3 linked regions of the Homo sapiens genome follow. The protein of the gene in region 3 purifies or fractionates together with the protein of the main gene of each other region. This does not show direct contact. Each region holds a gene or a part of one and is shown on either strand. Other genes may lie near its edges. The genes, in order: CCNQ, AMPD3 and TTC14.

Region 1 (3,652 bases), on a different chromosome or scaffold from region 3:
CCCCTAGAAAATCCTGCCCCGTGTGAGCGTCTTGGTTTACTGGACTGCCAGGCGGTCTGTGCTAACCACATCATTTATGGTGAGGGCCTTGGGCCACAGAGTCCCAGCCAGATCTCTGGTGGCTGCAGCCCAAGTGACCAGGGTTGGCCACGCAGGCGCTCCATGCCCATGCAGCCCACCACCTCCCACGGAAACCCTGGCCGCCATGGCTGGGATGAGCTTCCCGGTTGTGACTCCGTGCTCGCTGTCCCACACTGTTGCCGAAAGAAACAGGTGCCGTCTGCACAACTCCCCTGGGCGAGGAGCCGCTGAAGCTCACGCCTGGTCTCTCCTGGAGCCCGCCCTGTGCGCCCTGAGCCTTCGCTCACGGTAACCTGTGTCCTTTCCTTGTAATAAACCGGAACTGGGAGTGTGACAGCTTTTCTGAGTTCCGAGCCCTCCCGGCACAGCACTGAGCCCCAGGGTGCTCTTCGGGATCCCCAATGATAAGGGAAATAGTAAGTAAAGCAGCAAGACCTTGGTCAGATGCTGCGTCTGTAGCCACCCTGTGCCAGAGCTTGCTGCCTGGGGAACCAATGTACCAATCAGATCAAGGCCTTGGGCCAAGTCAAGGCAAGAACTGGACCTACGTCCACCCCTGCTGAATGCTCCCAAAGAACCCTAGGTTCCTCTGTGGCCTACAACCTCAGGTAGGAGATGGTGACCTGGACGCCCTCCAAGTCCTGACTCAGGAAGCATAGCTGTCTTACCCTGGGCTCTGGGTGAAAAACAAATACTTCAGAAATGCACACTTGCTTGCTGGGGTCCATGACCTGTGTGCTCCTGGAGACCCCAAGCTCAGAAGCAATCATTAAAAAACATTCAGGGGCTGGGCATAGTGGCTCACGCTTGTAATCCCAGCACTTTGGGAGGCCGAGGCGGGTGGATCACTGGAGGTCACGAGTTCAAGATCAGCCTGGCCAACATGGTGAAACCCCGTCTCTACTAAAAATACAAAAATTAGCCAGGTGTGGTGGCAGGCACTTGTAATCCCAGTTACTTAGGAGACTGAGGCAGGACAATCACTTGAACCAAGGAGGTGGAGGCTGTAGTAAGCTGAGATTGCGCCACTGTACTCCAGCCTGGGCAATAGAGTGAGACTCTGTCTCTATTAAAAAAAAAAAAAAAAAAAAAAAAAAGCAAGGCCAAAACGTGGAAGCAGCCTGCATCCATCGATGGATGAATATGTTAATATCATATGGTCCATGCAGGCCATGAAATATGATTCAGCCATCAAAAGAAAGGACATTCTGAGACGGGGGCTCCAACATTGTGCTCAGCAAAAGAAGCCAGTCACAGAAAGGCCCGCACTGTAGGATTCCACTCCTGTGAGGGGCCTCAAAGGAGAGCCGTGAACTCTGTAGAGGACAGTGGAAGGTTGGGTGCCAGGAGCTTGGGGGTGGGGAGTTGGGGTTGAACGGGGCCAGAGCTTCAGTTTGGGAAGATGAACAATTTCTGCGGCTGGATGGTGGTGATGGCTGCACAGCACCGTGAATGTGCTTCCGTCCCTGGGCCGCACACTTAAAAATGGTGAACGTGGTACAATTTAGGTGATGTCTATGTCACCACAATTAAATGTAACAGTCCAGAACAGGTGGCAACCCTGGGGCACCTGACAGCAGAAGAGACACAGACCCAAGTCCTAGGAGGAGACACTGCTGGCCTCTGGGGACTCTGCCTTTTTGAGGGCAGTCCATCTGCTTATAAGACAAAAAGCAGCAGTGGCTGGAAAGAGGCAGGTTCTCCTTCTGCTCAGGAACAAGGGGATGGAGGGCACTCGGTGTGGCTCTGGACGTGGAAGTTTCAGCAGCATTGCGTGACGACCTGCATCATTTCTGACCCCGCTACTGTCCCTGCTCATCTGGCAAGTCAGAGTGCAGGCAGGCTTCTCCAGGGAAGCACATCAAGCTGCCATGCTGAGCCCGTGGCAGATAAGTGACAGGAGTCACCGTAAGAAGTGGCAGCCGAGAGCACACAAGGAAGAAAGGGTTTCAAAAGCCAGGCCGTGAGCTCTGCAGCACCCGGGTGGGTGAGGCCTCCCAGGATCTCACTCATCATGGGGGATCAGGCCCTCGCACCCCGCCAGCCCACAGGAGGCACCTGGATTCCGGAAGCTTCTGGTGCACAGCCCCGAGCTGGGAGGCAAAGGTCAGGTCAAGTTTAGCAGAGCCTTTAAGAAGAGCTGGCTGAACAGAAGTTCCACACCCCACAAAGGGTAACTTCTTCCCAGTCTGAACGATGACTGGGTGAGTCTGGGCCGCCAGCAAACAACTTGCTGGTAGAGCTGCTTCCTGGCTGTGCAGGGTTACCTGGGCTCGCACTCCTCTGGGAGGGGCTGAGCATGGGACGCAGGTGGTACTGCCACACCAGGTGAGGTTTACGAGCAAGCGCAGAAGACAGAGCAGAAAGGAAGACAGATGCAGCATAGCCAGGCAGCCCAGGGCCAGGGCCACACCCACCAGATGTCCCCAGAGGGTGTTTGCCCCCCCCAGAGTCCAACCCTGAGCACGAGGCAGCCACATTATGTGAAAGTCCCTGAGCAGCCCGAGCGTGGGGCAACACTGTCTACACAGATGGCCCTGCACCACCTGCACACTGCCTTGGGGACAGGGTGCTTCCGGCTTGAGACTGGGAACATGGGTGCATGGGTTCAAAGACACATGAGCACCCGCTTTGGTGCCAGGGAGGCGCGGGAGACTGGGGAAGAGATGCCCAGCCTCAGGCACTCACAGCTGACTGGGGATACGAGATTACACAATAAACACGCAAAAATCAGCAAATGCTGTGGTCTTCCACAAGGCACACGGGCCAGGGAAGAGAGGCAGGGCTACCTCTATGCAGAACAGCACCAGCCACCTGGAAAGCTGTCCTATGCACAGGCCTACAGAGTTCCACCATCTACCCTCCATGATCTACCTATTAATACCTATCAATCACCCGCCACCCTGCCCATCAGCTCTCTCCCCTATCCATCCAGGTGTCTGTCAACTAGCCAGCTAGCTGTCACCTACCTAGCCATCCAGCCCTCTCCATAAAGCACCCCAGATGTTTCTGATGGGAAGCCAGGTTTAGTAACCTGTGATCACAGTCAAGTTCCCACTCAATTCAGTAAAAGCGGTTCTCCGCTGGGGCAACCCTCCTCCCGGGACACCGGCGACGTCGGTGGAGGCCAGCACTCCTGTTCGACATCCGGGACCCCTAAATGGCAACTGTGCCGAGGGGGAGAGCCTGTCCCAGGCCATCGCAACAGGGTACTTTCGAGCTTCCATGTTCCCCAGCAGCCCGTATCTTTCTTCATGGATAATTAATAGAATTTGGTGAGCACTGCAATACAGAGACTTCCAGAGGGAAAGGGGGCACGTCCAGTGTGCCAAGCAGCCACCTCACCTGCCACCACGGCTTCTCAGCCTCGACCTCGGCGGGCACCTCAACTCCGTAGACCTGCAGGGCCAGGTAGAGCACCGCCACGGCGATGTGCTGGGCCTGGAAGCGGAGGCACAGCGCCCCATGGTAGCTGTCCCGCAGCAGGGCCCAGGCGGTGACGGCAACAGGGGTCCGCTGCCAGCTGTGGCGGTTCAGCCAGTTCTGGAGGGAAACCAGGTAGTGGAGCAGG
Region 2 (3,652 bases), on a different chromosome or scaffold from region 3:
AGACCGCAAAAAGGTTTGTTCCCAAGGCATGGTTTTCGTGTACATAGAGTCATGCAGACCCAGGCAGGCTGTGGGTGTGTGTCCTGATATGAGGCACCTCATGGGGACTGGTATGTCCCTAGAGCTGTGTTGGTTCCTTAACCAAGACCACTTAACTCACCTCTTATTTATTGAGGGATGTCTCGGTGCCTCTGTTGCACTGAAAAGATCAAAACCCACTTTGCTGCTGATGTGAAAAAATACACACCATTTCCAAATGGCATTTCTCTTTTCTTTTTGGAAATTTGAGGATTTCTTAGGAGACAGCAATTGTATTTCTTCTCATCACTTGACAAGCATTTTGCATTACTAATGAACACAGCTTACTATTTGCCGGGTGCTGTGCTGGGACTGGAGATGTTATAATGAACAAGATAGATAGAGTCCCTGGGTCTAGACAATAATTAAGTAACTGGACAAATTAACTTAAAAATTACAAGTTATAATAAGTGCTGTATCAGTCAGGGTCCAACTAGAAGATCAGAAACCAATGAAGTATTAGAATTTTAATGCAGGGAATTGGTTACACAGGTGGTAGAGAGCTGAGAAACCAAACAGGGGAGAGAGAGGCGGCTCAGAGATTAGACACAGTAAGGAGCAGCTACTACCCAGGACAGGAGTGACAAGGAAAGCAGTAGTGTTTCTGGAGCCAAGGTGGAGTCGCCCTGGGGAAGGTGGAACTGTGGTGGACTTTCCAGTGGAAACTGGAGCCAAGGGGAAGAGGTGGCAGCTGCAGAGATGCCTCCCAAGGCAGAGATGGAGGCAGGCAATACCTCGTTTGACCCTTTCTGCACCTTCCAGGTTCTCCCAGTGGCTGCCATGGGCCAAACCTAGCCAGAATCCTGCTGGCACACTTGGGAAACACAGGAGAGGATGAGGAATGGATCTGAGGGCAAACAGGCCCAGGAGCAGCGCAAGTGCTATGAAAGAGATGAATAAGGATGAGATGGGGTTAGGGGAGAGAAAGGCCGGGAAAGAGAGAGAAAAAATCCTTTTTTAGACTGGGAAGTCAGGGAAGGCCTCTCCAAGGAGATGACATCTTAGCGGATGCTTCAGGGTATAAAGAAGCTAGCTATGTGGCCTTCCAGATAGAAGAATCAGCTAGGGCAAAGGCCCCCCAGTTTCTTCCAGAAGGCCCATGTGGTTAGAGGTCTGTTAAAGGAAGAAGTGCTGTGACCAGGGCTGGAGGACTTGTGGGGCCCAGATCAGACTGGCCTTGTGCTCCCTGATAAGAAGTTTGGATTGGAGTCTAAGTGAAATGAGAAGCCCTCATCCTTTCACAGTTTATCTCACCCTGGGCTTTATCAGATTTTCTGCCTGCCCGGTACCCTGCAAACATCAATAGTTGACATGGTAGACCTTTGAGCCCTCTCCGACCTAGTCTGTGATCACACTAGATACTGCCTCAGTTTTAAAGGCAAGTCTTTTCCTTTCTTGGTTGTGTAGAAGCTCGCATTTTCTTAACTCGTTTGGAAAGAAGTAAAAAGTTGACTACTGGTGTAAAGGCAAGAACAGAGCTTCACCACTCATAAGACCAGTGCTTTCCTTCCTTGAAAGGATGGTGAGCCCATAAAGGCAGGAGTCACTGGTGCCATTGGTTAACCTCTGAGTGCCAGCCTTGTGTTGGATAAGGTGGGGTGGCCCCAGCCCCAGCAGTGTGCTCATCCCTGGAGGGTCAAGAAGAGTATGACTGTAGAGACCCTCATTCACACTCCGTGGGTGGAACAGAAGGGCTGACTTCATCAAGTGAATGGTCTGCAGGGCCTTCTGTGTGTTATGAATTGAGCATTTGAGACCCTTAACAATGAGAGGAAAAGAAATCCTGGCATTTTTTATTACTAGGAACAATAAGTTTCTGGAACCAGTTTCCACTACAGAGTGACACTGGGCCTGACATCTGCTGAAGCGACTGTGCTCTTCTCAATGCCCAGACTCAGGGCAAAATGGAAGCTTTCTTACTCTAAGTCTTAATGGTGCTCTGTGGTTTCCAGAAATTCCCCTGCAAACTTCTCTCCAAAAACTTTGTTCTGTCCTTGCCTAGGTTATGGTGTCTTAGTTTGCATCTGTCTGCGCCATTTGACTAGACGCTCCTTGAGGACTGGATCCATTGTGGAACTTAGTTGGTGGGCAGTGGATGTCTGGCAGAGGAAGACATCCTGCCTCCCCATTGCCACCATGGACACTACATCAGGGTGGCTGCAACTTCTTGGACCTCTGTGTTCTGCCACTCACTGTCATGCTCTGTGACTTTGGGGAAATTAGGAAACCTCTCTGGGCCTCAGCCTCGTCCTCATCTATAAAGTGGAGATGCTAACAGCTACCTTCATGGGGTGTTGTGAGGAATGAGGGAATCCACAGGTAAAAGGCTTCGGACAGTGTCTGGTTATAGTGCATCCCGAGTAAATATAAGTGATTTCTCTGACTTCCTGCTGCTGAGACAGGGAACAATAGCAGCTCCTGCCATTGAATACTTACTATGGGCTAAGTACTAGCCTGTGTAGGTTGGATTCATTCTTTAATTCTCACATCGAGCTTATCAAATGGATATTCTTAGTATTCTGATTTTGCAGATTAGGGAACGAAGGCTCAGAGAAGTTGAATTTACTTTCACAAAGACACATAGTGAGTAAATGACAGAGCAAGAACTAGAGCCCATATCTTTTGAATCTAGACCCCACACTTCAACCATAAGGCTATCCCCTCTTCAGGTAGGGGTGGAGTCTTCGGTTCCCTGGTCTGTAGACCCTGGAATGACACTAGGTGCTGCTCCCTAGAATGTAATTGTTGCTTCTAAATGAAATGGAGGGAAACTGGTCAAAGCTCCCGCTCTGTCCATCGGCTTCTTTCCTGAAAAAAAGCTTGGTCCCTGGACTGTCAGATGCCCCAGCATCCTCCTCTGGGGTCTGCCCATACCCAATTTTGTCTTTTAGTTTCTCTTCTCACTAGAGGTGCCTTTATATGTAAATGTTCGAAAGTTAACATTTTCATGGAGGACACCCTCTCCCCAGCTCCCTCTTTGTCTGTGGCACCTCCCATCCCATCTCCTATTTATTCTTACTTTACACAGAATTCTATAATCTGGCTATATTGTTTCTTATCCCGTGGCAGATTTAAAGAAGCAAATTAGAAGCAGGGAGAGAGACTTCTACAGGCAGGGTCACAGAGGTGATGTGTGGTGATTATAAGCCTGGGCTTTGGGGTCAGACCTATTGGGTTCAAGTGGCAGCCCTGTCACTTACTACTGAATGGCCTTGGTCAAAGCTCTTGACTGCCTGAGCTGGTTTCCTAAACTGCAAAATGAGAATAATAAAAGGACATACCTTGTGAGAATTAAATGAGCGAATACACAAAAAATCCTTAGCGCAGTGCTTGGAGCACCATTAATGTTCCTGTTTTGTTATTGTTGTTATTAGACAGTCAACAGTGAGAGAGGAAACAAAATAATTATGAAAAGCAGGCACAAGAATTTGAAGCACAGTAGTTTAGGGATAACACACCTCTGAGATCATAACTGGATAATACAGTGATGATCCTGGGTCATTGAGAAAACTTTAAATTATGTTCAGCATGCTTTGAGGAAGAATGCAGGAATTATGTATTTTTTTAAGAAGCC
Region 3 (3,386 bases):
CAATTTGGGGAGGATCTTTATAATCCAAGTCTCTTTGTTCTTCAGCTCTAGCTGCTGGAATTTATTATTCTTAGTAAAACCAGGCTCTAGTTGGTCTAGTTATTTATTCAGACTCTGAGAAAGGGGTCATCAGAGAAGCATCAAGGCACAGGAGGTGGTAAGAAGAAATGCAGGTCAGATTTAACGACATGCCTAGTGCCTTCTGGACTGAACATCTGCTACACTAGGAGAGTCTCCCAATTTTCTTTCCCTAAAGAAAAGCCAGATTTACAATGTGCTTCTCTGCTACTGCTATGTTTTTGCTAAAAGGATTTTTTTCTTTTCTGATTTACCCTTGCGTGGAATACAGGCCCTAAGGGCCTTGTAAATATTTAAAGTTAAAAAGCTTTTTATGGCTATGCTAGCAATGAGGTAAAAAATAATGGAGAAATAAGCAAAATGGGCTCCTATTCAACTTTTATGATCTTATTCCTAAGGCACTTATGCTGGGTGGAAGCCAATGACTGTTCACAAACCACTTTTAATCAAATTGGGCTTTAGAGGAAAATTAAGACATATAATCTACCATTTAAAAATTTTAAAAAAAATTGGGCAAAAAATGTAATATTTAAACTGATAAATATAAAAGTGTTCAAGAAACATTCGAACATATAATCTTTCAAAAGCTGACGATTTTTAATTTAACAGAAAAGAAAATGAAATTAATTTTTATAAAAATGATCCAAGTGTTCAATGCACAAATTTTTCTCTCAAACAGCAGAATAAGATGCACCCAGGAATTCTCATATACCGCAATAGAATGAAGAAACAGTACTTTCAGAGAATTATCTTTAGGTGAAGAAATTCAAACTGTCAAGAGTAATATACTGTACATAAACATATACATAAAAAGTCTAAAAACCAAGCTGTGACAAGGGACCTAGAACTGAAACAAAATTTGAGAAAAACTTACTTAAAAGCATTTGTTTCCTGTAATCTCTACAAATAATTTTAGAAGCAGAGATTTCTGCACTCAACTGTTATGACTAATACAACCAAAAACTTCACTTAATGGCATTTTGTGTAATGGTGCCGATATCCTTGGTGTATTAATTTTTTGACTTATTTCCTTTTTCTTTTTCAAATTCAGCTATCTGATTAAATATATTCAGTAAATTCTGAGGTAAATTTTTCTTAACACTGCTTTCTGAGTGTTCTTTGCTACTTAGTGCATCTTCTTCTGGAACCTCTGTTTTGATATCCTCCCCATAATTGTCCTCTCTTTCATATTCTCCTTGATTTGTATTTAAACGGTATCTTTGCTCATGTCTACTGAAATCACGTGATCCAGAGTGAGCGTATTTTTTGTATTTCTCAACTGACTTCCAAGAGTATTCTGAGCTTGCTGGTGAGGTAGAATGCCTCACAGAACCTGGTTCCCACCTTCTATAGTGCTCTTTTCTTCCCTCTATATCCTTTTCAAATCTCCTATAACCATAAATCTTGTCCTCTGAATTCCTACAGAAGGAATCTGAGGAATTTCTTCTACTGGAAAAATGTCTTTCTGATTTATATGGCTTTTCTGTTTTGCTACTACCTGCTTGGGTTTTATAGCTGTTATAAAAATCTCTTGGATCTTCAGACCTACCTCCAAAATCATCCGGTATTTCAAGTGAAGATGAAGAGAGAGGGCATCTATCTTTCTCTTTTATCTGTGTCTTTTCATACTGTAACCTATCCTGCTTCCCCAGTAGTTTCTCCACTTCTTGTTTATGGTTAAGAAAAGATGCTGAAGTATTAGCTGGAACTGGGTAGCACTCATCTTTCCTATTCTGATCTATCTGATTTGAGGATGCCCTAGATGAATGCCTTCTGGAACTGCGAGAAGACTCTGAACGGTTCCTCTTATGTTTCTTATGCCTTTTGTGACCAGAAGAGGAAGAGGATGATGATGAAGACACTGATTCATCAGCAGAAGAAACACTTGAAGAAGAAGTTGATTTTCTTCTTTTCTTCTTTAGCCTAAAAAAAACAGTTCATTTGTCATATATATACAAAAATGTTTCTAAATTATTCATAAAGATGTGGGCCCTATTTGTTTCCTTTAAAGATTTTATAAAAGCTGTGGTTCAGATAAATGATACAATAATCTCGGCTACTACAAGATCTAATTTTACTATTAAGCACTTTTGGGGGAAAAAATGCTTGCAGACAGGTATCATTGTAAGCAAATCCATCATCTCTGAAAGACAGACTTTTTTCAACACTACCTTAAAAACTTAAGACTACTGAACACATAAAGGAGAACTCAACTTTTTTATTTGGCTACCTCTAGTTCATGGTTTCTTCACCTGATTATTGGTATTTTCAGCCAAATAATTCTTGGTAGGGGGTGGGGGTGCGGGTGGGAGCTGACCTGTGCATTACAGAATGTTTAAGAGCATCCCTGACCATTATACACTAGATGCAGTAGCACCCTATCAGTTATGGCAATCAAAAATGTCTCCACATCTTGTCAAATGTCCCCGGGTGAATAAATCCACCCCTAGTTGAGAACCACTGCTCTAGTTCTAAAATATTTCTTCCTAAAACATAATTAAAGTAACTTATTCTATATTTTAATTCTAAGATACTCTTTTTTTGTAGAATTCTAGCCTTAAATTCCACTTCATCTCTTTAATAAGAAAATACATGGAACACATATTTGCTAAAGATTCTTAACAGTCACTGATTGGCACTTGAAATACTTTCATATTTTTATTTACTTTACCTCCAGTATGGCACTTTGGGTTCAATTCAGTAGTTGCCTTAAGTTTAAAAATACTGAATATTATAGTTTACCTCTTCTCTTCTTTTAAGAGCTTACGCAACTTTTCTGCACTTGTTTCTATTTTCTTTGTTTTCTGCTTTTCTTCCTTTTCAGCTTGTTTTTCTCTTAATTCCAAAGATTTCTTTTAGAACCCAGATATCGAAAAAAACCACACGTTAAAAATAGCAGAATATATAAAACCCAGTATTCAAAAGACCACCCCCAACGAGAAACCCAATTTAGTAAAACCAAATCACCATAGAGCCAGCATTAAACAGTATTTTTTTAACATAAAAAAATTAGTCATACAGATGTTTGGCATTAGTCATTGAAATGGCCAGAACAGCATTGAGGACCATATTGCAGTTGGTATCCCATAAAAAAAGGGGAAGCCATTGCAGTGGTACCCATGACCCAGAGTGCAAGAAAGGTTAAAAAAAAAAAAAAAGTACATAAAAATTATTTTTAAAGATTGAAAAATTTAAACAGGACACATTTTACAAATAAAATTCAAATAAAGACATTCCGTTAAGGTGAAGTGAAGGAGGAATCACCATGTTCAAATACAAACCATTTAAAAAAATAGCACAGCCCAGTT

What was found.
Region 1: the proteins of TTC14 (region 3) and CCNQ purify together in Homo sapiens (affinity purification with mass spectrometry; one large-scale study listed by BioGRID and IntAct). This does not show direct contact.
Region 2: the proteins of TTC14 (region 3) and AMPD3 purify together in Homo sapiens (affinity purification with mass spectrometry; one large-scale study listed by BioGRID and IntAct). This does not show direct contact.

The regions. Positions count from the first base shown.
Region 1 is NC_000023.11:153,589,080-153,592,731, forward strand, and holds part of CCNQ (cyclin-Q), read right to left. Parts: coding exon 3,427-3,652; intron 1-3,426. UniProt on the Homo sapiens protein: Activating cyclin for the cyclin-associated kinase CDK10.
Region 2 is NC_000011.10:10,461,728-10,465,379, forward strand, and holds part of AMPD3 (AMP deaminase 3), read left to right. Parts: coding exon 1-13; intron 14-3,652. UniProt on the Homo sapiens protein: AMP deaminase plays a critical role in energy metabolism.
Region 3 is NC_000003.12:180,608,245-180,611,630, reverse strand, and holds the end of TTC14 (tetratricopeptide repeat protein 14), read right to left. Parts: exon of another isoform or gene 2,931-3,386; coding exon 2,821-2,930; exon of another isoform or gene 2,002-2,820; coding exon 1,089-2,001; 3' UTR 501-1,088; downstream 1-500.